Linked DNA regions of Homo sapiens. The protein of the gene in region 4 purifies or fractionates together with the protein of the main gene of each other region. This does not show direct contact. Each region holds a gene or a part of one and is shown on either strand. Other genes may lie near its edges.

What was found.
Region 1: the proteins of TMEM255B (region 4) and PLXDC2 purify together in Homo sapiens (affinity purification with mass spectrometry; 2 studies listed by BioGRID and IntAct, with this or other methods). This does not show direct contact.
Region 2: the proteins of TMEM255B (region 4) and WWP1 purify together in Homo sapiens (affinity purification with mass spectrometry; 3 studies listed by BioGRID and IntAct, with this or other methods). This does not show direct contact.
Region 3: the proteins of TMEM255B (region 4) and PHYHIP purify together in Homo sapiens (affinity purification with mass spectrometry; 3 studies listed by BioGRID and IntAct, with this or other methods). This does not show direct contact.

Annotation. Positions count from the first base shown.
Region 1 is NC_000010.11:19,812,048-19,819,780, forward strand, and holds the start of PLXDC2 (plexin domain-containing protein 2 isoform 1 precursor), read left to right. Parts: upstream 1-4,384; 5' UTR 4,385-5,032; coding exon 5,033-5,144; intron 5,145-7,733. UniProt on the Homo sapiens protein: May play a role in tumor angiogenesis.
Region 2 is NC_000008.11:86,408,258-86,416,070, reverse strand, and holds part of WWP1 (NEDD4-like E3 ubiquitin-protein ligase WWP1), read right to left. Parts: intron 4,534-7,813; coding exon 4,197-4,533; intron 1-4,196. UniProt on the Homo sapiens protein: E3 ubiquitin-protein ligase which accepts ubiquitin from an E2 ubiquitin-conjugating enzyme in the form of a thioester and then directly transfers the ubiquitin to targeted substrates.
Region 3 is NC_000008.11:22,228,670-22,236,533, forward strand, and holds the start of PHYHIP (phytanoyl-CoA hydroxylase-interacting protein), read right to left. Parts: upstream 3,431-7,864; 5' UTR 3,127-3,430; intron 241-3,126; exon of another isoform or gene 119-240; intron 1-118. UniProt on the Homo sapiens protein: Its interaction with PHYH suggests a role in the development of the central system.
Region 4 is NC_000013.11:113,761,661-113,769,473, reverse strand, and holds part of TMEM255B (transmembrane protein 255B), read right to left. Parts: intron 3,360-7,813; coding exon 3,217-3,359; intron 377-3,216; coding exon 314-376; intron 1-313.

The DNA.
Region 1 (7,733 bases), on a different chromosome or scaffold from region 4:
CATTTAAAAATAAATGTAACATAATGCTCCTACCCCCTTTTGATAATATAGTGTTCCATCTTATTAATATCTTTTCTACATTTTGAGTTACACATTTTTATGCTTTGCTATTTACTGGTCAAAACCACTTTAGCTCATTAAGATTCAGAAAGGAGGCTATAAAGATGTATGCCATTTTAATGCAGGATATTGTTTCATTATGAATGTGCCTATATTGTTAATTTCATCTAGATAGTACATGTAGTATTGATATGAGGCTAAAAGGCATAAAGTATTCTTGTATGTTAAATGCTCCAGTTAAAAAGAGTTATGTTAGCTGTTAAGTGAGTTTTAAAAAGATGTTTATTCAATTCAAACACATAATTGATAAAATTTTCACCTTAAAACTATAAAGAACAAAAAGCTGGAATATCCATCAACAGTACAATAGAATTACAGTTTATTCTGAGAGCAGATCAGCCAAGACGAACAAATGAGTCTTGTAATTGCATACCAGAGGTCAAAAAATTAGCCTTACCAAATGAGGAGGGAGAGGAAATGCTGAGACCTAGAGGAAAGGTCATAATATTTGGACTGAATAAAAGCATTTCACTAATAGCAATTTCCCTTTATCTGACAGCAATTGTAGAAAGTTTTAACAAATCCTGTTAAAATGGACAAAAACTATTTCCTGAATAGTTAAGAAAAGATTATAATAAATGCCAAGTATTCTACAGCATGTATAGAATCTCATTTCCAAGTGAGCATGCTGTTTTCTTCAGCATCCTGTTAGCCAAGTTCCAATTTTGGACAGGTCCTAGGAAACACAACATTGTTAAAGACAGAGATGATACGAGGTGATTAATTGTAAGTACATTTCTATAGATAGTATTGCACTTGGAGTGTGTAAAAATCTCTCTGAAGATTGGTAGAGATAAGGGTTGTAAACAGGTTTGAAATCCACACAGTGATAGCTCACATGCTAATCTTTGCCCAAAGTTCTATGTTGTTGAGAATGATTCTGATATATTATTTTAAAGGAGAGAGTGTCGTATGAATTCCAGATCTTTGTCATGGACAAAGAATCTAAGTGCTATTCATTTGTGGTTCCTGATTCATTTGTTCCTTGAGAGATTAGCTAAAATTAAGAGTAGGTGAAAGAACCACCAATTCCTTTCCTATGTCTATAGTGAATACAAACAGCCGTTACTACGTCTCTCCCTCATGTCAGATGGAAGATGTAACATCTTCCACAAATACTTACTTTGTTACTACAAAATGGAAAGAGACACTTCTACTGTGGTGAAATGTGTATGGCAAACCCAAATAATTTAGGCCACAAAATACCCTAGTTTAGCCAGAATTATGAGTAATCTACTTTTTCCATTTCACTCTGAACATACTGTCCTACATACATTTTATTTATTCGTTCCTTGCTACAGTGTAAAGGCAGAATATACTTTAAAAAAATAATCATTCATCAACATTTAAGGCAAATGATCAGAGCTTGAGTTTATTGTTATACAATGTTGCTCTTTCTTCTTTATTTCTGAACAGCAAATCTCATCAAGCATGATTGAGTTTTGCTTACTTGTATCTTCTCCCTTACTTCCGCATTTACTATGTGTATAGCTCTTCAGAATAAAATTAAGATAGGAGTAAACCAATACAATTCAGCAGCATCAGTGACATAACCAAACATATAAAAGTCCTTCCTGACTGACCCTGAATGACCATTTACCCCCTTTCAAATTTTGACATCAAATTTCTACTTACAAAAAGTATATAGTTTCAATCAGGTGGTCAAAGCATTGATGACCGCAAGTAACAAGAAAAATGAACCCTGCGAATACGCACATAAAATAATAAAGGAAAAAAGAAAGAAAATGATAGCAAGGAGAGGTGGAGATTTGCTTGTTCTCAGAGGAGGAAACACCTATTTTTCTACTGTGAAAGAAGGAGAAATAACTCGGTCTGAAAAAAGAGGTGCTTTCTTGAAATGGTTTCCGCTGGATTCCCCATTATTTTAGATATGATGGGAGCTGGAGTTGTGCAGAATATTTTGGGACGCTTTCCGCATGGATTTATGATCCTCAAAAAGAATCGGCATCAATTAAACTATAGTTGACCCTTGAACAGTATGGGGGTCAGGGGGACGGACCCCCACACAGTAGAAAATTAATGTATAATTTCGACTCCTCATAAACTTAACTGCTAATACCCTACTGTTGATTAGAAGCATTACTGATAATATAAAAACAGTTGATTAACACATATTTGGTATGTTCTACATATTACATACTGTATTCTTAAAATAAAGTAAGCTAGAGAAAAGAAAATGTTAAGAAAATCATAAGGAAGATAAATATACTTACTGTTTATTAAGTGGAAGTGGATCATCAGAAAGGCTTTCATCCTCATCGTCTTCACATTGAGTGGGCTGAAGCGGAGGAAGAGGAGGGGTTAGTCTTGCTCTGTTAGGGGTGGCAGAGGAGGAAGAAAATCCATGCAAAAGCGGATCCTCGCAGTTCAAACCCCTGTTGTTCAAGGGTCAACCGCACAATCAGGTTTTGATGAGAAGACTCAGTTTTCAAACTTGATTTTAAGCAGGTATATATCCGGGTACTCAAATTCGGATGTAATATTACATAGAACTTAAACACTCCTAGTTAAGCAGAAATAGAAAAACCCAGTTACCTAAGTAGAAATCAACCTATGGGAGGAAAGCTCAGGAAAGAGCCAGGGTCCTGGCATAATAAAGAGTATAGGCATGATATATGTTTGTGTTTATACGTGTATATCTGTTGTTTGGAAATAAAGAGCAAATTGAGTATTGGATTAAGGGAAACCTTTCTTGTTTCCCATGAGAGAGCCGTCCTTTGAGCATCACATTTGCAAAGGTAGATTGATTATCCGGATCCACTTCCAGTGGGTTTTGTGGCAAGCCGAGACATCTATTGACAGCATCCATAGACTCTTCAGAGCTTGGAGTGGAAAGGACCTTGAACTTAGAACACATGCACATTTATTATGTGATTGAAGTCGTCTTCTCTCACTTTTGCTTCAGTAAACACTTAAACAAAGCCATGTACTTTGCGGTAGGCAATGTTCTATATTTATTAAATATACAGTTAACTCATCCAATCCATTGCAACCACCTTATAAGGGCGTTACTCTAATTCTCTCCATTTGATGGATGGATAACTGAGGCTAGGAGATAAACTGCTCATTGCGGGGGAGGTGAAATTCCAGCCCAGGCTGTCCGGGCTCTAGATCCTGTACTTTTAACCAATAGCGCTTTGCTTCTTTTCCTTGTATTTATCCCTTTCAAAAATGATTAACTGTATGCAAAATAAGATATCAACTAACGAGAGGGCCGGCAAGGGTTAACGCGGAAACAGATCCCCGAGCTGAAAAAACAAAAACAAACTGGGGAGCCAGAGCCCCTGAAAGCTCCGGTAGGAAATTCAATGGGCCTCCTGTTCCTTTAAACTCTCGCTTTCGCCCCCGCTGACACTTTGCAAAGCCGCGGCGGCAGCGGCGGGGACCACGCTGCGGTGCACCACCTTCCGCCACCCTCCCGCGCTGGGCTGGGGTCGAGGGGGCTTCGCAGAGTCGGTAACCGAACCGGCTCTGGTTTGCTTTCTCCACTCCCTAGCCACTACCAGAACCAGCCTCCGCGAAGGGGCGAGCTGTGGTTAACCCTTTCGTGCCCAGGGAGACCCCGCCAGGGTCGGGGCGGGGCGCGATCGCCCCCCGCAGTCGGGCGCGAAGGCGGCCCGGGAGCCAGGTGGGTGTGGGGCGCAGTTGGCGGAGCTGCCCAGGGCGTGCGAGCAGGCTGCGAGGATGGCGCCCCGGCGGCGCGGAGGTACCGCCCCGCGCTCCCCCGATAGCTCCCCGGCCTGTCCCCTCTCCCCGCGCTCTGGGGCAGCCGGCTGCCTGGGGCGCACGGGGCTGGAGTGGCCCTCTCCCTCCCCTTCGCTAGGCTCCCCCGGCTTAATCTGTTGGCCGCGACTCCTCAGCCAGCCCCGAGGAAAGTGCAGCCATTGGACAGGTCTGTGCGGGCTGCCGGTTTCAGGGAGGAAGGTGGGAGAAGCCTGGAGGAGCGAAGGGGAGGGCGGAGGGAGGAGGGAGGAGGGTGCGGCGGCAGATCTGGCAAATTGCGAGCTGCCTTCCCTCCTCAAAGTGTGGAGAAGGAGCGCGGGGGAGCGTGGCGACGGCAGCGCCTCCTCCGCCACCAAACTCCTGGGGCTCCGCGGGGGCTTGGGGCCACCTCCTCCTGAGCCCGGAGGAACCCTCTCCCGATAGGTTCCAGCGTGACTCCCTCCCACTCCACCCTTTTCCTTTCTTCTTCCTCTTTTTTTTTTTTTTTTTTAAACACATTTTTTTCCTGGCTTCGGACCTCAGACTGCTGCAGCCCTAACCTTCCCAGGGCTCAGCTCTTTGGAGCTGCCCATTCCTCCGGCTGCGAGAAAGGACGCGCGCCCTGCGTCGGGCGAAGAAAAGAAGCAAAACTTGTCGGGAGGGTTTCGTCATCAACCTCCTTCCCGCAAACCTAAACCTCCTGCCGGGGCCATCCCTAGACAGAGGAAAGTTCCTGCAGAGCCGACCAGCCCTAGTGGATCTGGGGCAGGCAGCGGCGCTGGCTGTGGAATTAGATCTGTTTTGAACCCAGTGGAGCGCATCGCTGGGGCTCGGAAGTCACCGTCCGCGGGCACCGGGTTGGCGCTGCCCGAGTGGAACCGACAGTTTGCGAGCCTCGGCTGCAAGTGGCCTCTCCTCCCCGCGGTTGTTGTTCAGTGTCGGGTGAGGGCTGCGAGTGTGGCAAGTTGCAAAGAGAGCCTCAGAGGTCCGAAGAGCGCTGCGCTCCTACTCGCGTTCGCTTCTTCCTCTTCTCGGTTCCCTACTGTGAAATCGCAGCGACATTTACAAAGGCCTCCGGGTCCTACCGAGACCGATCCGCAGCGTTTGGCCCGGTCGTGCCTATTGCATCGGGAGCCCCCGAGCACCGGCGAAGGACTGGCGGGTGGGGTAGGGAGGTGGCGGCGGCGGCATGGCGAGGTTCCCGAAGGCCGACCTGGCCGCTGCAGGAGTTATGTTACTTTGCCACTTCTTCACGGACCAGTTTCAGTTCGCCGATGGGAAACCCGGAGACCAAATCCTTGGTAAGTAAGATGCACTTTAGCTTGCTGATTTTGTGCGCAGCTGAAGACCTCTCTGGCACTCTCGTGCTCCCTACCCTCTCCCCCCAACATCACCTATCTGCCCTTGGGAAACTTATTGCAGTTGCTTTTCGGCTAAACTTAGGCTTCCCAAATGGGGAAAGAGGGTTATCAAGAGAAGGACGCCGGGGACTAGGGGTTTTCTTGAGGCTTTCGGGCTTACTTCACCTGGGCGGCAGGGGGTGGTACTGTCTCCCCAAAGTAGCCCAGGGAGGGCTTCAGTGTGAGAGCAAAGCTTCTTCCGTGGATACATCTCCTAGGACCTGGCATCTCCAGGCTGTGTGCTCTCCGGCTCCTCCTCCTTCCTCGCTGCTGGTTAAACTAAGCGTGTGTGGTATGGGGTGGGTGGGGGACGTTGTGAAAGCCAGGGATTGCAGGTCTCCCCTCTGCACGAGAAAATTCCCTGTGGCAGCACCTTCCTTCCCCTGGCGATCCCCACTAGCTCCGTCTAGTGACCTGGGCCAAGCGGGCGCTGGAAGGGGGGCGGGGTAAATGCGGCCGGCGCAGAGGTGGGGAGCAGGTGGGAAAGGTGGAGGCGGGCTCGCCTCTGGAGACCTACCCCTGCTCCCATTGTCCTCCGCCTGCCAGCTTCACAGACAGGCCTGAACGCGCAGAGAGTTCCTTGGAGTGCCCTGATTTTGTCCCCGAGAGGGCCCCCAACCTCCGCATCCTCTTAGTGGCTGTCCTGGCAGGTGCGCGTCCTGCGGGGAGTTGCGCCCCGGGGGCTATCGCCGAGCGGGAGCTGCCTCCTGGAACCCTGCCCACCGCGAACTGGGTGCCTACTCCCCATTTCTGCCTTTCAGTGAAGAAAGTGAAGACACAGGCAGAAAGAGATCTTGGCAGAAATTGGTGAACTAGGGTGGACTTCGAGAGGAGGTGAAACGAGAGAAAAAGAAAAAAGAAAAAACTTGGAGGGAAAAGAAAAGAAAACGAAAACTTTCTCCCTAGGATAATCAATTTGTCAATTTGTTCTTTTCTGGTGTGTGTGTGTGTGTGTGTGTGTGTGTGTGTGTGTGTGTGTGTGTAATTTAAATGATTGCCCGGAAAGTATGCATGCGTCCTCAACAGTCAACTAGAGAGTCACAGATGGAAGGTTGGGGGACACCTGGGGATTCCAGGCAAGGTGAATCTTGAAGATCTTGAAGGAAACCCTTGAGTGAAATTTACCAAGCCGCGACTTAGAAGACAGTCACAACACTTCGCCTGTCCCTGGTGTAAACTGTTCTAGATAAAGCACAGATACTGACTCTGCGCTCTTATTTATGGTTGAAGGGGTGTGTGTGTTGGGGTGTATGTGCAGGGAGGCAATAGGATGACAACACTTTTAAAGCTGAGAACAAAATGCAGATTTCTTGGGTGTTGACTTGTCTTTGTCACATTTAATTGTTCTGCATTAATGGACATAGGTTGTTCTTGACTGTGTATGATTTATGACAGTAGACTATGCCTTTTGTTTATTTCTCTGATACGTTTCATTGGTCCGAAAAAATAACACTTTTAGCCTTCCAGGAAAGGACACAGTTATTTAAAAATTGCAACAGTAATTTTCATGTACTTATTCACGGTATGAATAGATGCTTAATAAAAACAATTAACTCCACCACAAACGAGGTTAAAAGGATGTGTGTGCCAATGTGCATCCCAAGTTGTTTATTTAAAAACTTCTTTGGCACTAGGAATAAATAATGCATTTGCAGTAAAGGAAAAAAAAATAAATGCCAGCAAATGTTTATCTTTTTATAAACCTGTTCCAGTAACGTTACTGAAAAAAGAATATATGTATACACACACACACACACACACACACACACACACAATACACACACATTTGCTATGCCAAGAAGTTCAGAAATTGAGGATGAAATTCATCCCAAAGTAAGATTGGCCATATAATTAAAAGCCCTTGCTGTGGGAAATATAAAATACTTAAAATGTTCAACATCAGTGTACTGGTATTTTAAGCTAGTTGAATATTTCTGATGGGAAATATACTCTAGAAACCCATATATTGATAGGATTGATTTTTAAAAGAATGGTTTTAAATTCCTTGCCAAATTTTCGAAGACTTTTATAAACAGAAGTAGCTTCTTTCCTGGACATCATTTACATGTAGTTTTATGAAAAAAATATTGTAATTAAATGGTTAGCTTACTGAATATATAAAAAAAGCAAGGTGAAACAGAAAAAAGTATACAACTTTATTTGTAAAATAGTCTATATAAAAATTCAGTATGGGGGGAAAAGTCCAGCAGTCTTGACGTTTGTCATGCAACAATCAGGATCTTTATTACAGACATGTTGGCACAGGAACAACATCTGATTTCATAACAGGGACATTTTATTATGCGTTACTTTAGTAAATGCTGCAGTTGATTTCATTGCCACCAGAGGGCAGATAAACTGCTAATTTCCTCTATTATTCCCTTTTCTGTTTTAGAGGGAAGTAGTTTATGTTTATCATATAATTTACACTTATTTTAGTTGTTCTTCTCTGGTTGAATATTTTTCTGTTATTTCCTGCTTTTGTTGGAG
Region 2 (7,813 bases), on a different chromosome or scaffold from region 4:
CCTAGAATTTTTCAGTGGCTTTTGACCTTGTTAACCATTTCTTCCAGAGGCATTTACCAGCCAGAGCTTTTGCCCAATTGCTCAGTCATTCTAAATCATTTAATGTAGCACAAATTCACTTATTTAACAAATATTTATTGAGTGCCTGCTATACGGTAGGCATAGTTTTGAGCACGAAGAATATAGAAATAGACAAAATAAAATCTCCCTTCAGTCTAGTGGAGAGACAACAGATAATAACACTGTGTGTCACATAATTTAAGTGCTAGAAAAATAATAAAGGTTACATCATGCTGATTAGAAGAAGCCTACTCAAAAGAGTTCATACTCCATCTATAGTAAGTTCTACAGCAGGGAAAATTAATCTATAGTAGAAAAAATTAGAATATTGATTGCCTCAGAATCACAACTTTCTAGGGTGATATTAATGTTCTGTATCTCGATAAAGATTTGAGTTACACAGACATACGCATTTGCCAAAATTCATCATAATGGTACATTCAAGACTCGTGTTTTTCTTTCTTTGTCATCTTTATCTAAAAAAATTTTAAAACATATTGAATTCCAGTTAATGATTTGCAAGCTGAAGTGTTGAGGGGCAAAACATATTGATGTCTGCAACTCATTGAAATGCACTAAAAATCAGATGGATGAAGAGATGAAGAGATGAGATAAGGCAAGCACAATAAAGGGTCAATTGTAAAATCTAGTGGGAAGTGTATGGGTTTTCACTGCAAAATTATAATTTTCTGTACATTTGTAAATTTTCAACATAAAATGTTGGGGAAAATAAAGCAGGATACGGAAATGTGGGGAAACTGGCTTGATTTGGACAGGAGACTCAAAAAACACCTCTGGAATGAGGTAACATTTTAACAAAACCTGAGTATATTTGAGAATACATAAAAGAGCACATGCAAAGTTCTTTAGGCAAAATCGTGCTTGGCATAACACTCAAATGTTATCTCCAGGCTAGAATATTCTTCTTCAGTTCTGGAACTGTACATATAACTGCCTCCTTGGTATACGGCATGAGGTACATATATCAACTGGATGCCCTACAAAATACAGAACACTTTCTCATCACTCTCCTACCCTAAGTCCAACATTCTATCATTATTTCAGTCAAATATGCCATGACCCAGTTGCCTAATCGCTATTTAGGGGCGGGGGTGGGGGGATGGGGGGGGGATTCAGAATGTATTTTTAATCTCTCTGAAAAGTACTCAATATTAATACACTGTCCAATTTTTCACTGATGCATACTTTAGATTTTGATACACAGAATTTTTTTATTTCATCTACATATCTCTATATAAAGTGAATTAAAAAATGTGGAGAGTAAAGGGTTAACAAAAGAACTTGAAGTAGCAGTTCTCAACTTGGCTGTACATTACAATCAACAGGATTGAGGCACCCATAGTCCTATCCTGTTGTTAGCTAAATGACTCAGTAAGTTACCAAACAAAAGAAAACACAGGAACTAAGGTAAGATTTTTAAGCAAAGAGGGAAGATGATGTGGAGTTGAAAACTGCTGACTCAAAGGGTTACACAGCCTGGTGCTGTGTATGCCAGAAGAATCCACCTTGGTTCCACTCTTTTTCTATTCTATCTCCCCACAACTTATCAAGACCCATCTTATGTCAACCTAAAATATTAGCATTTACCTCACTTCAGGCTCTCTTAATTTCTCCCCTGGATTAGTGGCTTTTAAACTTTTTTTGACCACAGTTTACACAGTAAGAAGTGTGTTTTATATAAATATCTCTGTGTATACCAGATTGCTATTTATCTACTGATTTTACTTACATACACACACATACACACACACACACACACACAGAAAAACAAACTTTCAGGAAACAATGCTTATTCTTACTACATTTAACATCTTCCAATATTTCCTATTCTCGCCTATATTTCTTTATTTCATTATGTGTTCAAATGCTGGTCATAACCTATTAACGGGTTGCACTCTACAATTTGAAAAACACTAATATAGATTACTGCAAAATTCTAATACAAAGATCATAAGTGGTGACAACAAGTCTGCTGAAGCATTTATCTGGTCTCAACAGAATTAGGTTTATGTACTTACTGTTTTGAACTGGAATGCCGGCTTCCCTCATTTATAAAACAGCCTGGCTGCTATCCCAACTCCTTAACTCCTCAGCTGTCTATACCACTGCAAAAATGATCTTAATAAAAGCAAAGAGGATTATGCCACTCCCCTGCTTTACATTCTTTAATGCTTATTCGTGGTTTTCAGAAAAAACTTCCAAACCCTTCGAAATCACACAAAATTCTTCACAGGGCTGTTTTCTCTTCAGCATTATATATCTTGCTGCCTCAAATGCTGAACTCAAACTATAACAAAATAATAATTCCTGGGTTCAGCATACTCATTTTCATGGGTGCTAGGAATCTGAATGTGCAGTCGGCTCTACTGAAAATGAAATTTTCACCACTCGTGCCTCCACTATTTGCTAACTCCTCCTCTTCTTTCAGAATCCACTGACGTGTCATAGCTTTCGAAAGTATTCTTTGACGTCAACGGCGCAGGTAACTCCTCCCATTCCTTCTCTGCATGTATTCCTTGTCATGGCATCCTAAACTTACCTCTGGCATAGCTTTAATTGTACTGTATGCTGGCTGATTGTCTACTTCTCTTCCCCTCCCCCACCACTTAGACGATGAGGTTCTTGACAGTAAGAACAGCTTCTTATATGTCTTTGCCACAGTGACTGGCACATGAGAGACTAGGATAATTGACTAATTTACCAAACATGGGACACAGGACAAGAGATTTTTGAGAGGGAAAGGAAAGCTAATATAGGGTCTGAAACATTTCCAGGAAACAGAAGAGGGAAAAGTAGTTGAAAATAAGCTCAAAGAAAAGTCTGGCCTGAACATATAGATTTAATAGTTAAAATGATGGAGAGCTGGCCAGGCATGGTGGCTCACACCTGTAATCCCAGCACTTTGGGAAGCAAGGCGGGTGGATCATGAGGTCAGGAGTTCGAGACCAGCCTGACCAACATGGAAAAACCCCGTCTCTACTAAAAATACAAAAATTAGCTGGGCATAGTGGCGGGTGCCTCTAATCCCAGCCACTTGGGAGGCTAAGGCAGCAGACTCACTTGAACCTGGGAGGCGGAAGTTGCAGTGAGCCAAGATCGTGCCATTGCACTCTAGCCTGGCCAACAAGAATGAAACTCTGCTCCAAAATAATAATAATGGAGAGTGCTAGATCTACTGGGGTAAGCACACAAAGGAAGACCAAAGGCTGAAACCGTAATTAAGCAGTGGACAACATCAGACGAGCCAGTAAAGGGCACTGAGAAAAAAAAAAACAATTCCAAAAAAAAAACCAACGTACACTAACATAGTGACTGAGGTAACAAAATGAAGACAATAGTGTAGAGACATCTAGAAGTGCAGTTTCAATAGCTACAACAGTTGACATTCTGATCACTGTAAACTGTGTTGGAAAGCACGTGTCCATATATACTTTCTGACTGTACTGTATATACTGTACACGTTTACAACTGTGAATCACTAAATAAGCTTCTTGAAGGCAGAGACAATTAATCATTAATTAATATTAGTATTATCAGTGCCAAAGGTCAAAGAAATTACCGAATGGAATACACATATAGAATACTCTTTAAAGAAAATCATGGGAAGTTGAGTAATTATAATGAGAAACTTAAAAGAGATTAAGAATTACTAACCAGCAATGAAAAACTGCATTTTTAATAGAGCCAATCAGCAAGGTTTGTGACTCCCCAGCACTCAATATTAGCTGAGGAAAAGAAGAGCTATTTGCTCTCCAGTATGAGGTCTGGAAAACAGATCACCAAGGATGCCAGAGAACTGAGGATATTATATGGAGTATCATGGTCACTCTTACGAAAAGTAGAAATAAACCAAGAATCAAATTAAGAGGGTCTTGCTAATTAACATCAGGTTTTTTCTTTTCCCTTCGTACTACATATATGTCAACCAGATGAGCAATTGTTCTTAGTTTCAAAAAGTACTTGTTTTGTAGCAAGTAAATAAATAGTATGATTCAGATCCCAACTTAGATTTCAAAGTTCTGAACAATGAAAACATTTTATGCACACATTCAATAATCGTATGTTAACAGAGTTGCTACTTAAATGCAAGTCAGACATTAAAAAGCTTAACATACCCTGATGGCAAGGTTTCTGTGTTGGCATTCCCAGACTGCTGCCGTACAGGATCCATACACCCATCTGGCTGTCTTGATTTGGCTGCTTCAAAAGCAGAACTACTTCTAGAATTAGAGGTGTCAGGCTCTAATATACTTCTAGCTTCAGATTCCAATTCTGCACTGGTAGAAGGAATACATTCATTGTTTTCTGAGGAAGTCAGTATTTCTTGAACTGGAGGATCTTCAACAGTAGTACTAGTGCAATTTGGAGACAAGGCATTTTCTTCAGACACTACTGGAGTACCCGTGACAGACGCATTATCAGTTGGTGCAAATGAGGATGATTCTCCATTAACTGAGAAGGGAAAATTAATAAAATCATCTATCAAGTAATGATAAAGCAATCAATTACCTAATCAATTGACTACACTTATTCAGAGCCTAATCCAGACTAAGCAACTACAATCCATTCTCCAAACAGCAGACAAAGTAATATTTTCAAAATATGTAACATAAAATAAAATGGAGATTTTATTTTTGTTGCTCAAAATTTCAGGGATGAATATGTAAATGATAAAAATTTAAGTATGTATAATAATAACAACCTTAAGGAGAGAGGAACCAGCATTAAGATAACCAGTGTTTTCCCTCCAAATCATCAATTCTGAGAGGAAGTCTGTATGGGCCATCTAAACTCTGAAAAATGATCCCTTTCAATCGCCCTTCCCTTGTGTAAGTGGTAGCTAACATCAAACGAACTGTTTTGCCAATAGTAGGAACTGTATGATGGCATCAGTTCTTAAGATAGTACTATAGGGGTTGCAAGAACCCATTCTACACTTTTTCAAGAAATAACCCAGTACTGCAATCCAGTGACACAGTTTTCCTAATTTTCATTTTAAGTGTGATTGATCTAGTTCGACTACGTGTCACTATAAAAATGAGTCAAATTAAAACTGTAAGGGTGAATAGATTACAGAACAAAACCTACTGGAAGACCATATATCAAAGTTCTAATGGAAATGGCAGAGGGAGACATAATCACAAATTTTAGGAGAATTAATGACAAAAAGAAAACACTCAGATTAAATGCTACTGGACATGGCCAAAGAAGTACCTAAAGATGTAAGAAAGAATGGTAACAAAAGAGCTTAGAATTCATTCCAGATACAGAAAAAAAAAAAAAAAGTAAGTAGAAGAAAATGAATTTTGGTCAAAAGACCCAAAAAAAAGATCAGAATTTCCTAATGCACCTGATAAGACTCCAGAACTTACTGAAAATATAGTATCTAAGTCCTCATCCTAGACTTACTGAATCTCTAGGGGAAATCTCTAGGGAAGAACCTGGGGATCTGCATTTTTAACAAATGCATATGATTTTTTTACTCAGGAAAGCTGGAGAAACCATGAAATATACCTTTCCAAGTGTTATAAAGAAAACATGTTTAATATAAATAACATTAGAAATACCACGTACAATTTCATATCAATGAGTTTGAAATTAGCTAAACTAACTCAAGGGAAAGAAAAAAAGACAAATCAGAGCAGCAATGGAAAAGGTGATGAAAGTTCTAATATCATCCCTCCTAAAGGCTCCAGGCTCAGAAAGGTTTTTGAGAAAATTCTATGAAGCCTTTATTGGATAGATCATTCTTATGTTATTTAAGGTGTTATAACACATTAGGGGAGAAAAAGTGAAAAGGAGTGTCCTAACTTATTCTGGGAAGGTAATGTAAACTTTCAAAGCTGAAACTGAACAACAACAGAACAAGAAGACTATAGACTAACATCATGTATAAATTCAAGGATGATTTGATATTAGGAAACTACATTAGAAAATCTACTGTTAGCAGATTAAAGGATAAACGTCATATGATTATTTTCAAAACAAACCAAAAGCATTCAAGAAAATCTTGGTAAAATGCCTGATAAGAAGAATCATGAAAAATTAAGAAGTAATCTAGATTATCTATCACAAACCTACAGTCATTAATATACAATAATTGTAAAACATTTTAAGAACTTTTTTTTTTGAGAAGGTGTCTCGCTCTGTGGCCCAGACTGGAGTGCAGTGGCACAATCACAGCTCACTGCAACCTCCACCTCCCGGGTTCAAACGGTTCTCCTTCCTCAGCCCCCCAGTAGCCGGGATTACAGGCACCCGCCACCACGCCTGGTTAGTTTTCCTATTTTTTGGTAGAGATGGGCTTTCACCTTGTTGGCCAGGCCAGTCTTGAACTCCTGACCTCAAATGATCCACCCAACTTGGCCTCCCAAAGTTCTGGGATTACAGGCATGAGCCACTGTGCCCAGCCTATTGTAAGAACTTCTATTAAGATCAAGAATAAAGTAAAATCAGGGCTGGGCACAGTGGCTCACGCCTGTAATCCCAGCACTTTGGGAGGCCGAGGCGGGTGGATCACGAGGTCAGGAGTTTGAGACCACCCTGACCAACACGGTGAAACCCTGTCTCTACCAAAAAATAGGAAAATTAGCTGGGTGTGGTGGTTGTGTGCCTGTAATCCCAGCTACTCAGGAGGCTGAGGCAGAAGTATTGCTTGAATCCGGGAGGTAGAGGTTGCAGTGAGCCAGGATCACGCCACTGTACTCCAACCTGGGCAAAAGAGCAAGACTCCGTCTGAAGAAAAAAAAAAAAAAAAAAAAAAGAAAGAAAAAGAAAAAGAATAAATTAAAATCAGCAACAAAACAAGGAAGATCACAATTACCAAGCCAATTCAGTATTGATTATATTTGACAATCCATTAAGAAAAGTCATAACAACATTGGAAAGAATATGGTAAAACTCATTTGTAGTGAAAATGACAAATAGATTATTTATTTAGAATACACAAGAAAATTTTTTTAAAAACCCCATTAGAACCAATTAATTGGAGCTAAAACATTTCAGCAAAATGAACAGACACAAGATCAACAACAAGATTACTTCAAGACCTATCCGAAGAAAAAAAATTTTTTTTTTTTTGAGACAGAGTCTTGCTCTGTCACCCAGGTTGGAGTGCAGTAGCGCGATCTCAGCTCACTGAAACCTCAGCACCCCAGGTTCAAGCAATTCTCCTGCCCCAGCCTCCCAAGTAGCAGGGATTATAGGCATGCGTCACCACACCCGGCTAAATTTTTTTGCATTTTTAGGATTTCATTATGTTGCCCAGGCTGGACTCGAACTCCTGACCTCAAGTGATTCCCCAGCCTGGGCCTCCCAAAATGCTGGGATTACAGGCGTAAGCCACTGCACAACCAGCGTGAAGAAAACACTTTAAAAAACATTACTAAAAAGAATGAATACAGACATAAAATATCTCTCAATGGGAAGATTCAGTATTGTTAAAATAATAATAAACAATAAACAACTCTCCTTGAAATGCAAATGTTGGTGAGATGCAAAGCACTAGGAATTCTCATTCACTGCAGTGGGAATGCAGGAGTACAGCCACTTTGGAAGACAGTTTGGCCGTTTGTTACAAAAGTAAACATACTTTAAAAATACAACCCACCAGTCTCACTCCTCAATCCAACTGAATTGAAGACTTATATTCACGTAAGAGCCTGCACACAAATGTATATAGCAATGTTTTTCACAATTGTAAAAAACTGAAGTAACCAAGGAGCCTTTATAA
Region 3 (7,864 bases), on a different chromosome or scaffold from region 4:
GACAGATTTGCAGCAGATGGAGCCGAGGAGGGAGGGGGCCCTCAGCCAGCAGGCGTGAAAAGAGAAAGGGGTGGGGGTGGAGAGGACGGGTGAGAGGCGGAGGAAACGCAGGAAGCACCTGCTGTGGAGCGGAGGTGCGAGGCTTGGGGCAGGTGACAGCCAAGAGCTCACAGGTGCCAGGGCCCTCGGATTCAGGCCTCTCTCCTCACTGGGGTCAGCAAGCGTTGCCGCGGTACATGGCTGGAAGGACAAGTGCCACGTTGGTGCATGTGGACACATTCGTGGTGGGAGGGGTACGCGGCACAGCCGGCTTCAAGCTCTTTTTCCACCCATAACTTTTTTTGATGATCCCTCTTTCTCTTTCGGCCAATCTTCTCTTGACTCCTTTCAATCATGACTTTTAACATTAACATCTATTAGGGGCCGGCCATGTGCTCATAATTTCACAGACGTCTCATGCAACCTTGGAAGTAGGCACACACTATCATTATCTCCATTTTACAGATGAGGCGACTGAGGTTGGGGAGGTACTAACATGCCCAAGGCCACGCAGAGAGCAAATGATTTGAACTCCGGCACCCAAGCTCTTGATCACTAAGCTAAGATAGTGTCCCCTCATGTGTGGGGGTGGAGGGGCACATGTGTGGCGTGTGTGCATGCATGGGTGCCCATGGTGTTTCCACCTGGCATTTTTCCTCCTTCCATCGTTTCCTTTCAAGCAACTGCATTTTCTCTCCCCTCCCTGTCTTACTCCTTTGGTTCTCCCCTTATGTCTGCTGCTCGTCCAGGTATGAGAGGACCTCATCACGGTCACTCTCATGTGTGCTTTAGCTGGGAAGAGCTGACTCTGGCCATGACTCTGGCCTGGCTGGCCTAGCTCCGGGATGGGGAAGAGCAAAGGGAAGGGGAGTGACAGCGTCTGGGAGGGGACAGCAGACGTGGGTGGGGCATTCTCCAGGGGCATTTGGTCTCCTGCTTTCCAATCCCTTCCTCCAGCCCAGTTCCTGGCACCCCTCATTTTTCTAAATGTCACCTCCTTCTCTTCTTTCTCCCCTCTTTTTCTCCTCCCCTTGCCCAGGAGCTAGTGGTGAGGGCATCTTGTGCCTGCAAAAGCAGGTACTTTTATTTATAGCTTCCAGAGGATCCAGCCCACACCTTCCTGTCAATTAAGCTTGCTCCAGAGCCTGGCACCTCTGTATTAACCTGTGAGTTGCCTGGATGGCAAGTACAGGGTGAAGGCTAAAGGTGATGGCCCTTACCTGCTCCAGGTGTCACTCAAGTCCTGTTTCATCTTAGCCTCCCACCCCACAGCCAAATGCCGGTGGCTTTGTGCATGGGGAATCCTATGGTAAATAAGCATGGCGGTGCTACCAGGCCCACCCCAAAATCAGGCAGATGGGATTGAGTGTCTGGAAACAACCCTACCATAATAAACCAGTTTGTAATTCATGGGGACAGGTGTGGAGCAGTGGGGAGTTACCATCTCTTGGGAACCTGGTGAGAAGCTCCCAGGGAGACACACATGTGCCCCTCACACACACACACGCACACACACACACGAACACAGACACACTCCTACCCAAGAGGCCCTGAGCGGCACCCACCCACACGCTCGGAGGCAGCCCACACTCGTCCCATGAGTAGGCACCTATTCCTGCCTCTCCTTGGAGTCCTCCTAGAAATAGGGGCAGCTGTGTTTGGCGGTAGGGGTCTCCAGGACCTGGGTGTCTGCTTGTCCCTCCCTCCCTACGGTTCTGGGAAAGCTGAGATGACATCCCCCCGCTAGCTTGGGAGGGTGGCAGTGAGTGAGCTGGGGTGGACAGAGGGGTGGGTGTGAACCCAAGTTCTCTACACCCAGAAGACTGGGGAAGGGCAGGGTGTGAGGGACAGGTTGAGGCAACACCCGAGAAACACCCACACTCCTGTGTGGATCCACCCCAAGACAGGCATGTACACACCCACACACAGGCAGGCACGCACGCGCATACACACATGCGCCAAGAGTGCCCACCCACCCGCGTCCCACACCTCCGCAGATGTCCTCACTCCCACACACCCATCTCCACATTCAGGTGCCTGCTGCCACCTTCCACATTCTAAGAATGCCCCACAGTTTTCCCTCTTCAATCTGTCACCTCCATGCACACCCAGACATGTTCATGTCCACAGGCTCACGCACACACACGTCCACGCACACCGCCTCACAAGCCATATGTGGGGAAAAGAGGATGCCACAGGCACCAACATGCATGTGTGCCACCTCCACAAGAAGGCACGCAACCCACACGCCTGCCGGCACACACATGTGTGTTCATACACACAGCAGCCCCCGCCCGAAGTCTGGTATTCTCTCTCGAATCATCTCCAGGCTCAAAGACAGACTTTGAAAATGTGTTTGCCTCTGGCCACACTCTGCCAGCCCTGAGCCTTCATGCCAACAGGTTTGTGCACCTACGTGGCTCTGCCCACAGACAATGGTTTCTGCCCCTTCTTCTCTTTACCCACTCCATCCTGCTCTGGGTCTCACCTCCCCATATAGAAAGCCCCTGTCTGCATACACTCCCACACACATGAAAAGGGACATGGTTACCCCTAAATATACTGCCTCATAGTGTCCCCACCCACGCACACCCACAGGCTACTCAAATAAGTCCCCCACACACATGTACCTCACGTGTGCCAGAAAGATATGTTTCTAGACATGCCTCACACCATTCAAAACCCACACATGAGCATGACTGCGGACAGACGGACCTATCTGCGCCAGCAAGCCTCCAGCCAACTCGCGAGCGCGCACACACACACGCCGCGCACACCGGTGCCCCTTCCCCATGCCCATTCAAACAGCCACCCTGCCACAGGGAATGCTTCCCCCACCCTGCTGTCCCTGTTGGCATCGCTGACTGCAGCAGAACGGTCACGGGGTGACTAACTGTGGTGCCCCAGAGACTGGATTCAGCCATTAACCACTTTGCCAAAGGCCTGGCCGGGGGGGGGGAGAGGGGACAAGGTCGTCAGGCCTGGCAGTCCAGGTGGGCACCCTGGGTGGTGGCAGGACCCTAGAGCCCCCAGATCCCGGCTACTCAGGATCAACAGCAGCAGGTTCCAGGGAGGAAGGGTACTCACCTGGCTCCACTGGGCTCTGCAGAGGAAAAGCTCGCAGGGAGGACAGGGAGAGACCTCTGCGTGGATGAGCTCCCCGGCAGGGGACAGCAGCCGGACGCCTGGGTCACGGGCAGTGGCGTGCGCTTGCTCCTCTCCCGGCTGCCAAGGAGGCTGCTTCCATGCCCCGCAGCCAGCTCCTGTCTGGCTGTGCAGCGCGTCGCTGCTGCCCCTGGTGAGACGATGTTCCCAGCTGAGCAGCGCAAGAAGAGAGGCAAGAGCGAAATCAAAGCAGCGTGGAGGAGAGAGAGGCAGAGAAGGGAGAAAGAACGAGAGAGCCAGACCGAATCTGCCTCCACCAATGGGATCAGCGGCTGCGCAGCGTCAGGTGATAATAAGCAGGCTTGGTCCCTGCTCGCCGGGCTGGTGGGAGGGGGAAAGGGCAGAGGGTCTCCCAGGGAGCTACACAGATGTCCTCAGGGACAGCAACACACGCCGCCTTTCCCCCATTCTTCCAGGACAAGCTGCCCTCAGAAGTCCCTCCAACACACCCCCTACTTGGAAATCTCTGACTTGAATGCAGCCCCCAAACTTTAGGATGCTGGGAGAGGGGTGGAGCTTAGCCAAGGGCTTGGGCCCCAAAGCAAAGACTCTGATTGGGGGAAGGGGAGGGAGGCTGTAGAGGGGAAAGGTCCAGATGGGGGGTGTGAAGCTGGGGTGGCTGTCTTCAGTCCGGAGCCTCTCCTTGGGGCCTTTTGGTGAACTGTGGTTCCATTTTCTTACCAACTCTAGAGAGAGATGGCAGACCTGCAGCTCAGGGATCCCTGTGGGTCTGGCAAGAACCCTCTGGCAGCTTGGGGGTCCACAGGAAAAGGGGCTGGGAGAGAGGCTGTGGCACAGTGCAGGGTGCACAGGGGTAAGAAAATGGGGGTGGGAGAACACACCAAGCTCTGAGTGTCCTCAGCCCACCCCACTCTCTGAGCACAAAGGAAGCCGGCCCTGGGCATCTTGGGGAGAGAATGTAATTCTGCTCTCACGGCAGCAGGAGGCTGTTCTGCCATCAAGAAGCAGACTCCGTGGAGGCCATCGGGAAGAACATCCAAGGAAATGTGAGTCCAGCAGCAAGCAGGGACAGAGGGTTGCGCAGTGGTGAAAAGCACAGGCTCACAGTCAGATGGATGTGCTGAGAATCCCTGCTCTACTGCTACCCAGCTGGGGGACCTTGGACAAGCCACTCAACCTCTCTTCATCTGTCAAGTGGGATCACACAGGTTTATTGTCATCATGGAATGAAATAATTAGGTAAATCGCCCAGCCCTGGGCCTGGCACATCAGAAGTGCCAGTCACATGTCAGAACTGTTCTTGTTCCCATCATATCGACAGCATCTTCCTGCAAGGAGCCCACAGTCCTCTACGGGAGAGAAGATGGCCATTTAGAGGATGCAATTAGAGAATGAGGAGCACACAACTAAATCGTAGGGCACAGATACTCATTCAGAGAAAGAACAATGGGCGGCTCCAGGGCACGTGCAGGGTGCAGGCCAGAGGAGGCTGTGGAAGCAGGAGTGCGGCTGGGGTGGGGAGGATTGGCACGGGGGCAGCTGACACCAGGCAGGCCCAGGGTGAGGTCTTGGTGAGCAGGAGAAGGTGTGAGCTGAGCCTAAGAAACACTCACCAAGAGGGAGTTGAGGCGGCAGGCCTCAGTGCAAAAGTCAGAGGAGGTAACAGCAGCAGAAAGTGAGAGTTCACAGAATGCAAAGACAAGCAGAAGCCAACCCTGCCTGAAACGGCTGTGAGAACCTCAGTGAGCCTGGCCAGGTCCTGAACTGCCGAATGTGGGGTGGTGCGTGGCACTGAGGCAGGACTAAGCACCCCCTTGGCCAAGCATGACTACGTCCTGCTCCGACATACCCACGCCGAGCTGGTGAGCTCAGAAGAGATGCAAAACGTAACCTCCTGGTGATGGCCAGCACATGACATCTGGACTACAATTCTGTCCCAGGCCGGGCGCAGTGGCTCACAAGAATCCGAACACTTTGGGAGACTGAGGCAGGCAGATCACCTGAGATCAGGAGTTCGAGACCAGCCTAGCTAACATGGCGAAACCCCATCTCTACTAAAAATATAAAAATTAGCTGGGTGTGGTGGTGGGCGCCTGTAATCCCAGCTACTTGGGAGGCTGAGGCACAAGAATCGCTTGAACCCGGGAGGTGGAGGTTGCAGTGAGCCAAGATTGCACCACTGCACTCCAGCCTGAGTGACAGAGTGAGATTGTGCCTCGAAAAATAAATAAATAAATAAATAATAAAATCCTGTCCCTAGGACCACACAGAGGGGCAGTGCAAGGAAAAAGGCAGGTTCTCTGTGACTTGGTTTCCCCTTCTGCCAAAGGAAAACTAGCCCCAGCACCATCCCTGCCTCCCACCTTCTCGGGATGTCATGAGGAGACTGCACGAGGTCCTGTGGCCCAAGCATGAGCAATAGCCATCTGAGCGCCCCTTTGTGGAGCTGCGTGCCGGCGACAGGTGAAGGCACAGCCCTTTAGGAGCTTCTGCCTCTTCTTGCCTCAGAGGACTTCTCTACAGATCACGAGAGGAAACACGTGGTAAGAGCAAACCATAGTGTGCCAAGTATAACTCACTCCCTATGAAACCAAACAACCGCCAAGATGCACTTCTGCTGCATTTTTATTTTTCATAACTTTTTATGACACAAGTAGCACATGATCATTGTAGAGAGACGAGCACATTTCATTTTAAAATTTAAGAGGGAATTTAAATCTCTCATTTTCCCACCATGCAGAAATACACATTAAATACATATAAAGAATTTTTTTAATTAATTTTTTTCGAGACAGGGTCTTGCTCTGTCACCCCGGCTGGAGTGCAGTGGCGCAAACTTGGCTCACTGCAACCTCTGCCTCCCTGGCTTAAGTAATCCTCCCACCTCAGTCCCCTGAATAGCTGAGAGTATAGGCGCACACCACCACACCTGGCTATTTTTTTTATTTTTTGTAGAGATGGGGTCTCACTGTGTTGCCCAGGCTGGTCCCAAACTCCTAAATGCAAGCAATCCACCCGCCTTGGCCTTCCAAAGTAGTTGGGATTACACAGGTGCGAGCCACCACACCCAGCCAATACTTGTATAGAATTTATTAACAAAAATAGAATGAAAGAATGCTGTTTTGTAACCTGCTTTTTTCACTTACCAATATCTTTTCTGTTCATCATATAACCTTTTTTTTTTTTTTTTTTTTTTTTTGAGACAGAGTCTCGCTCTGTTGTTCTGTCTCCCAGAACCTGGGAGGTGGAGGTTGCAGTGAGCCAAGATCACGCCACTGTACTCCAGCCTGGGTGACAGGGTGAGACTCCATCTCAACAACAAATTTTTTTTTTTTTTTTTTTTTTTTTTTTGTAGAGACAGGCTCTCACTATGTTGGTCAGGCTGATCTCCAACTCCTGGTCTCCAGTGATCCTCCTGCCTCGGCCTCTCAAAGTGCTAGGATTACAGGTGTGAGCCACCATGCCCAGCTGATCAACTCCATTTTAAAAAGGTGGAGGGTGGGAAAGAGGACTCAGGCCATAAGTAGTAAAACTAGTTAGTATTCAAATTCAGGTCTGTCTGAGTACCAAGGCCAGATTCCTCGTGGTAGAAAGATGCATAGCAAATATAGAGTCTGATGTAATAGAGAATGAGACTATAAGCAAAACATATTTACAGTCTTAATATTGCTTATGCACTTTATAGATTTAAAATGTTTATGTGTATTTCCCTATGGCTGAACTCAGTGTGGGGATCCGGTGAGCCAATGAATGCACATACATCAGGTAGTCCGTGGAAACCACTTTTGTCCTTTACATGTGTTTACAATGACAAGAGTGGGCCATGAGTATTTATAAGAACTACATGGATTTCTCAGTGCTTATTTCCTTTTCTTTTCGATATTATGTTTAGACAACCTATAACCTTCACTGGTCATCTATTTTAATGAAGAGCATTAACCTAATTCTAAAAACATTTACTAAACTAAAGAAAAAGTATTTTATGGCTGGGTGCAGTGGCTCATACCTGTAATCTCAGCTCTTTAGGAGTCTGAAGTGGGCAGATCACTTGAACCCAGGAGTTCGAGACCAGTCTGGGCAACATGGTGAAACCCCGTCTTCACAAAGAGTACAAAAATTAGCTGGGCATGGTGGCATGGGCCTATAGTCCCAACTACTCTGGAGGCTGAGGCAGCAGGATTGCTTGAGCCTAGGATTTGGAGGCTGCAGTGAGGCATGATCGCTTCACTGCACTCCAGTCTGGGTGACAAAGCGAGAACCTGTCTCAAAGATATATATATTTTAGATTTTGTAGAAAACTTAAATATTTAACCACTTTAAGACATGGGAAAATGCTGAATTATATTAAAGGACTCAGACAAGCTACAGAAGAGACACTGAGAGAATGTTGGAGGGATAAAAGGAACTTCAAGAGAAAAAGATCAAGAACAATGATGAAAGAGAATCGTAAGTAGAAGGACTCATATAGAACCTCAGTACTGGAATAGTCAGTAAGTTATACCCAAAGTGGAAGAACATGATGTAGGAAATACGGAACACCACTGCGCACTGCTTGGCAAGGTACCAGGACAAGGCCAGGCGCGGTAGCTCACGCCTGTAATCTCAGGACTTAGGGAGGTTGAGGCAGCCGAATCGTCTGAGGTAGGAGTTCGAGACCAGCCTGGCCAGCATGGCAAAACCCTGTGTCTACTAAAAATAC
Region 4 (7,813 bases):
TTTAATTTGCCACCCCCGTCCCAAACTTCATGCATTCTCTGAGCTTCCCAGGCCTCAGCATTGGTGGTTGCACACCACGTGAGGTTGATACACCAGCAACCCAGGGCCATGCTCGCTTAGACTAAGGTGTGAATGGTACTCGCTGAACCCTGTATCCAGGACTGTGCAGGCCACAGCCCGGGAACCTCAGAGCTGGTCCTGTAGACACCAGTGTGCTGGGGAGGCAGGGCTGACTCTTCTCAGAGCCCCAGTGCAGCTGTACCATCCCCTGATGAGGGACTCATGCTCCCCACCACCCCATGTACTTTCTTACCATTTGCCTTCTATTCTCCACCAAGTTGATGCCAATAATTCCTAAGAAAGATCCAAAGCCGAGCTAAAACCAAAGGAAGAACGAGAGAGAAACACTCATTAACGTGCCTAGAAGCTTAACACTGACATTTAAAGCAAATAATCCCGCCCTCAAAGGCATTTTATCCAGGGACGAAGGCCAGACATCCCTACCTCAAGAACCTCAACCACTGAGCAGCAGGTGCGTCTGCTGGCGTTGGGCAGGCATCTCTGCAACATCACCTGTCCTGTCTTCTCTGCTCAGAGGTTTTTAATGATGCATCTGTTTGGCTTGTGACTCTGGGGTAAGAGAAGTTCCCACTCCTCCCCCAGAGACAACATCTTTTCGGGAACCCAGGGCCACCAAGCACCACCATCTGTCCCGTCTTCTCCAGGCCTGAGATGCCCCTGAGCATGGCTCCTGGGTAAGGTATTAGGGAACTACAGCCGTGTTTCAAAAGAAGGGTTGCCAGGCACAAGGGCCACCAGTGACCCCTGCTCAGACGGCCTAACTCTGGTTGCTGCTTCGGGAGAGTGAGCAGGGCAGACCGTTAGCAGGGAGGTGCCAGGTGTGGGGAAAGGGCACCTGAGCCAGGCACAGAGGGGGCACCTGGGCCAGGCACAGAGGGGGCCCCGGGCTGCAGCACAGGCCACCAGGGGTCCGGCAGAGCCCCCTTACTCCACAGGAAGCCCCAGCTCTGGGCAGAAAATGATACTGGGATGTCGGGAAATAGACATGGGACTGTGCTGTCTTAGAACAGAGGCCACCGGCCGGGCATCCGCACCCTCCACCCAGGGCCCGTCCTGGCAGGTGACGCCCACCTGGCAGAGGAATTTTTAAAATCAGTGTGAAGAACATGCATTTCAGCAACACCCACCGAAAATCTGGCTCAGAGCAGCCAACATGGACCTGCCAACGACCGTGCCGAGGCCTAAGACGGCTCTTGCTCCCACGCAGGTGCGCCGGGCCGGTCGCACTTCCCAGTGAGTGTCTGTTGGAAGGGGTGGCCCGCCCGGCACAGCCTTGGAGTTGCTGGGGCCGTGGTGTCAAGTTTAATGCACTGGAAACCGGACTTCTTTATGTAAATAGTTTTGCCTTTTCTGTAATTGTCTGTGTGTCTGTGGTGATAGACACGTACACATGTGGCTTTCACCAACGGTTTGAGAATTCTCCAGGGATAACAGGAATATTTCTTCATGTGCTGAGCTTCAAAATACTGCAGTTCAACTCCACACGTCAAAAATATCAAAATTTCACTTCGATATACATGTATTAAAATACATCTGTTACACTACGTTTTATTTTTTGGGGATTTGAAAAAAACCACACCTTTCTTGAAAATGTGGAGATGTTTTCACGTTCTGGCCGCTTCTTCTGAGATCAGCTTCTTAAGTCTCTACATTGGCAGAAAGTCTCCACAGAAGTGACTCTTAGCCACGTTTCCTTGAAGCTGCTTTTATTTGTTGTCTCCCTAGTTTGCTTTCAGAACTGTCTGTACTACAGGCCATTTCAATCTGGTCAGCACAGCATTAATTCATTGCCCAGAAGGTAGATTCTTTACAGAGCATAGCTTGGGCATTAGCCATTGATGTTTTTCATTATGTTATTCTGAGGCAGCTCTTAAATAAGCTTGAGGACAAACCAAAAAAAACAACCACTCAAGGCTGATCTTGATGTTTCGCAAATCACTTGGAGGTCCCTCCTCACAGCCACTTGCCCTCTGGGCTCCCCTTTCTGCCCAGGAAGCAGAAAAGCCCCTCACATGAGGCCAAGGTCCCCACACCATTGGCCTCTTGCAATTTTACTGATAAAGCTTTTTCTGCATAGATACTATTTGTATATGTTTATTCATAAACTATACACAGGTAGATAGTGTAGATGTCTAAGGCACACCCTAAGATATAAACAAAGGAAAATATAATGGTGAAATAAACAGTATTTGTAAAATATTTCTAAATACTTAGGGCCAAAAATCTTTCATCTTTGCTGATTGTCATCAATATTATTACCAATCTTGGTAGTACTTTAGGTGAGAGTAATGAGATTGAAGAAGCCGCATTTTAAAATCTTGCTTTAGCACTTTATGACGTAGCAACCAGGCTCTGGGGCATGTGAAGGGCATCGCAGCTGATCCAAGCCATTCCAACAGAGGTTCACTGTGCAGAATGCAGGCACTTAGGAGAATTCTTTTACTAACGACAGAGGATGTAATTTCATAGTTCAAAAAACCTTGATACTTTTGAATCTGGGTGACCAATTCTTGCCAATTAGGTTACCATCAATTTACCTCGCCGCCTTACTGTTCAAAATCTGGCCTGACGGGTGGATGAGGTCAGCACCACCACCTTCTGGCCGTTCCCACGCGATCACGTCACTAATACGATCTTTGACCCACGGCTTCTTGGTAGGAATCGTTTAAAGTTACTTTCCCCTTCCATGGGCTATGGTGGTCGACCTGGTCCCTCAGGGTAAAATCCTTCCAGGATGCTTGGGGAGGCTCTGTCCGGCCTTTTTGGACATCCTGGGCTCCTGGCCCCTCCTCCACCTTGGACATTTCCTGTTGCCGGGCTCTGGCCCCCCTCCTGCCCTCTGGTCACCCTGTGACCACATCGGGCCAACCCAGACAATGGAGGGCACCTGGCCCTATTTTGAGATCAACTTGGACCTCAACCCCAATTCCCCTCTGCCTTGGACCTGCCACTGTCCCAGGTCCTGGGGATTGGGAAGTGCATGTCTGTGGGGGCCATAACCCTGCCGACCACAAGCACTGATCGAAGCCTCCCCACCTTCAGCCCCAGCCCTGTGAGCTGGCGTGGACTCCACCCTGAGAGAGCCACACACCACCCTGCCCTCCCCGGCCCAGGCCGCCCGCCCGGCGCACTCACAATGATCCCTGGGTAGTAGCCCCCAACGGTCACATTCTCCGTCCTGGTGGTGGCAGCCAGCCCGACGGTGACTATGAGGACGGACACCAGCAGCAGAGACCCCACAAACCAGAGCGACGTCTTCTTCCTCCTCGAAAGCCCTTCTGTGGGGAGGAAGGCGAGGACCTGTCAGTGAGGGCTCAGGCTCAGGAGGGCGTCAGGCCAGCAGGCTCTGGGCCGTGCTCCGTTACCCAGGGGTCCTGGGATGCACTATCCCCGCCTGCCTCCAGGCCCACCTCAGGGGACCACCCCCAACCTCCATTAGATAACAGAATAAAATCTCTGGACCATAAGCCACTATACTGGATAGCCTGGTATTTGCGGCCAAACCTAATTCTAACTGTCACAGAACTCAAGAAAGCAAACTAGAAAGGACTCCTTCCTATTGGCTGCCTCTTCCTCTATCTGACTTTCTCCCCCTGGTGTCCCCAGGAGGACAGGAGCATCTTTTGTTTACTGTTTTATCATTACCATTCGCTCACAGACACACCCTCTCTATCCGCCTATCCCAGCCACACCCAGTGGGGGAGGGGGCTGCCACCAGGGGAGGGGCAGGGAGAGAGGAACGCACACAGCAGCCATCCAGCTGTGCCATCTGTTTTGCTTTATTTTTTGAAAACTGAATCATCTTGATCCCTGTGTGACTCCAAACAAAATAGGGGATTTAAAAAACCATGGTAAGGTCTTCCTACTCCAAGAGTTTGAAAATCAACATTTGTGTGTGTGCACATGTGTAAGTGCGTGTGTGCAGGGAAAGCAGACCGCACACTGGAGAGCCGCTGGCAGCGATGACGGCCGTGCAGACATTGTCCACACCCTAGAAGGTCCGCATCTGAAGATTTACACTTCTGCAATCCCATCAGCAGAGCTCAATGGCAAGGCAAGGTTATCGCACCCAAGGAAGGGATTGTTACATCCTCAGAAATGAGTTTCACAAAACTATAAATCAATGTGCAGATGCAGAATTGCTCTGCTGATCTGAGAGAGTCATTTTTATCCAGCTGACCCAGCAAGGGCGTGGCCTTGGTCACGGCCTTCCTTCAAGGCCCTCTTGGACTCAGCACAGCCCCCGGCACAGCACCCTGCCTGCCTCTTGACCCTTGCAAAGATACACTTGTCCCAAGAATCTCATCCTAAATCGCTTTTTACCTTCCACCTTGGAGGGGACCAGATCACTCCATTCGCCAATGTAATAAACCATCGGCTCCCACCAGCCAGCCAGGCTGCCCCCGTCTTGGACCCACTGCACCGAGGCGGCCAGTGGCACTGTCCTTAGTGTTATACTCCAGGCCGCAGGCAGTGGTTTCAGCCTCTCCCTGGTTGCCCCATCTCCTGCCTCCTTAGAGGCAGGCTTGTTGCAGCATCCACAGGGCCTTTGTACCTGCTGTCTCCAGCTAGACACTCGCAGCACTCCCTGAAGGCCTCTCTTACATGTTGCTGCATAGACACACTGAGTATAGTAGCCACACTCACCCCTGTGCTCTCCACAGTTGCCCCTTCACCCCTGCCCCTGCAGAGCATCCTCGCATGTGAGAGGCAGAGGGGACACCAGACAGACAGAGGCACACGCTGCAGGCATTGGAAAAGGCCAAGTTCAGTGGAGAAAACTTAAGCAGGGCTGGGGACAGGGCGCTCCGGATGTGTCACCCACAGGCAGCGGGCAGAGGGCAGAGCCTTCCCTGAGGGGCCTGGTGATGGCACAGTGCACCCCTCAGCCCAGCACCACTGGTGTGGAGTGAGGCCCTCCTTCTGAAAGCCACCCTCCTGAGACACCAGAGGCCGCAGCCCGGTGCGGGCCAGGGAGCAATCCCCACACCCAGCCTCAGGAACACGCCCTGGGGTTCGGGGTCCCTGCAGCCAGGGCCACACCTGCGCCCTCCGGGTCCCCAAGGCAGCTTCTGCAGGGGTCACACTGAATAAACCTAGAGGGGTGACAAGCAGGTGGGTGCAGGGGCGGGCACAGCACCAGGAGCCCCAAGGCCACACTGGCGGCCCAGGACCTGGCACCTACACATCCATCACCCAGTGTCTGTTAAAGTCATGCTCCCCCAGCCCCAACCCGTGTCCCCGTGTCCCACGCCCACGCCCCGGCCCATCCCACCCCAGGCCACACCTGCCTTCCTGTGTGCATGGAGCACGTCCTTTCTTGTCTTTGGATGGGGAGGACACTCCCCTCAAGTGACCGAGGCCCAGGCACCCGACACCTGCCCTGCATGAGGGGATGGGCGCTGCACCTGCCAGCCGGAACACACGGCCCAAGGCCTCCTCCAGCTCCGCCTCTCAGTCCCTCGCTTCTCAGCCTCAGGCTTCCTTCCTCCTCCCCACCTCTAACTCGCACAGTTCTTCCCTGTGTCTCTCATGGTATTTCTGAACTAAAAGCCAACCCTCGTTGGACTGGAAAAGGTTGGGAAGATGATAACGACATTCTTACAAGGAAAAGGGAGACAGTGGGTATATGTTGGAAAGTGTGATTTTTACGCTGCTCAGAAGAGCAGAGTGATTTTTTGTAGAACACTCATAAAGTACTGAAAAATGCAAAAGGGAAAATAAAATTCATGGTAACCTAAATTAACAAGTAGGCATAAAATCTTATGGTCTTTTTTCAATGCACTATGTACTTTTTAAAACATTTTTTTCTTAAATTAGGACCACAATGCTTTATAGTAATTTTTTCACTGAAATCTTGCAATTTGTTAAAAACCTGAAAGGTTATATGTTCACGGTCGTTTGCCCGAGAGACAGGAGCGATGGCGACAGATCCCGGGTCTCTGTCGGGAAGTCGAGGTGAGAAACGGCAAACCCACGCTGGGAGCAAGTGGGCAAGAGGAAGGCAGGCACCTCCCGTGGGTGAAACTCCGTTCTGGTTGATTCGTTTTAGAAAGGTAGGTAAACTTTTTAAAAATGGACACAAAATTTAAAAATATATGCAATTCCACATTTTGGAAGTTAATGAAACAGCTATTGTGGAATTACACAAAATAATCATATTGATGATAATAACACCATCTATGGATTGGGCTGTGTGTCGATTTTCAGAGCAGCCTAACTTCCTTATCTCATTTGATCATGACCAGAGGCTCCAGGTCACCCTCACCAGCCTCCATGTAACACCTGCCAATGCAGCCAAATGCTAGGTGCCTTCAACTCACACAATTCCCGCTTCAGCCTTTCCTGCTTTTCCTTAGGCTCCCATTCCAATCTTTTGACTGTTTAAATGTATTTTAAGAGCAATACAATTTCTAAAACTAAATTTTATGGGACTAAGTATTTGAGAAAATTATCAGACAAACGCTGTCCTTCTCAAAGGATTTTGTTGTGCGATTTTTCTTAATTAAATGCACTGCATGCATATAATATTATGCTCAAAATAGTTAACCAGATGACTCAGCGTCTGCTTCGACCCACAGGTAGAACCTTCCGTGGGGCTCCTGTCCCAGCCTCCTGTGGGCGTCCGTCTGTCAGGAACCCTGTGACTGGATTCTGGTTCTTAAAGCTGGAAGCTCTGCTCGGTTCCTTGGCATGAAGAGTGGGGGCCCAGCAAGACCCACTGGGCTAACTGACCTTGTCAAGTCAATCGGTAACATGCTGACTTGTTAATTACTATGCGAAGAGTTAGACACATCTCCTCTGAAACCACGTAAATCCTCCTACAAACCATTTTCAACCTAACTTTGCTATGTTTACCCCTCTTTCCTGAGTCTAACTTCCCCCCCATCTGCTACAAAATAAAAAGCAGAAGGTATGAGCCACCCTTTTATCAGCATTCCTATCACAGATTCCTAGATTATACAAGTCTAGAAAGACAGTAGAACTTACATGGGGCACTGGGAGCAATGGTTGCAAATCATCTCATTCAATTACACAATGGTGATATTTTGACTCCAGATATAATAGAGATAACAAAAAGAAGACTCCCAACCTTAAACACATTCTATAAATACATGACACAGCATAAAAATGAGAAAAAAAATAAACTCAAGAAAAGAAGGTGGGATATCTTTATAATTAGCATAAGAGATAATTATAAGGTCAGATTTTCAAGAGAAAGGGGCTTTCACTTAGGAGAAAGATAATTAAAATCACCTGAATAATTTCCTTGATTTTTTTTTTTTTCCTGTCCCGGAAATACTGTTATTACACGCACTGTGAAAATTAAAGTGCTCCTAAGTGCCCCAACTATTAATTAAAATATCTACCAATAGGTTTCTATTGCAGAGGCAGCTTACAGGGACTGGACCCAAACCATTCTGGGTCTGTCCAGACCCATTGTGTGGTCTTGGGCGGCCATTTAATCTCCCTGAGCCTGGGAGAAGAGAACCCTATGAGAGCCAAGAGCTCTGTCTCTTGTTTGTCGCCGGTTCCCGGGGCTCAGATGAGGACATAGACACATCTCCTGGTACGGAATGAATGAAGGCACTTCAGTCTCCTGACCTGTAGGATGGAAATCATGAGAACCACCTGCTCACCCACCTCTTGAGATTGTGATAAGCGTCCAGTGAGACACGATACGTGGGCTCTCATATAGGTTTTTGTAAATGGAATGCATATGCTAATCATC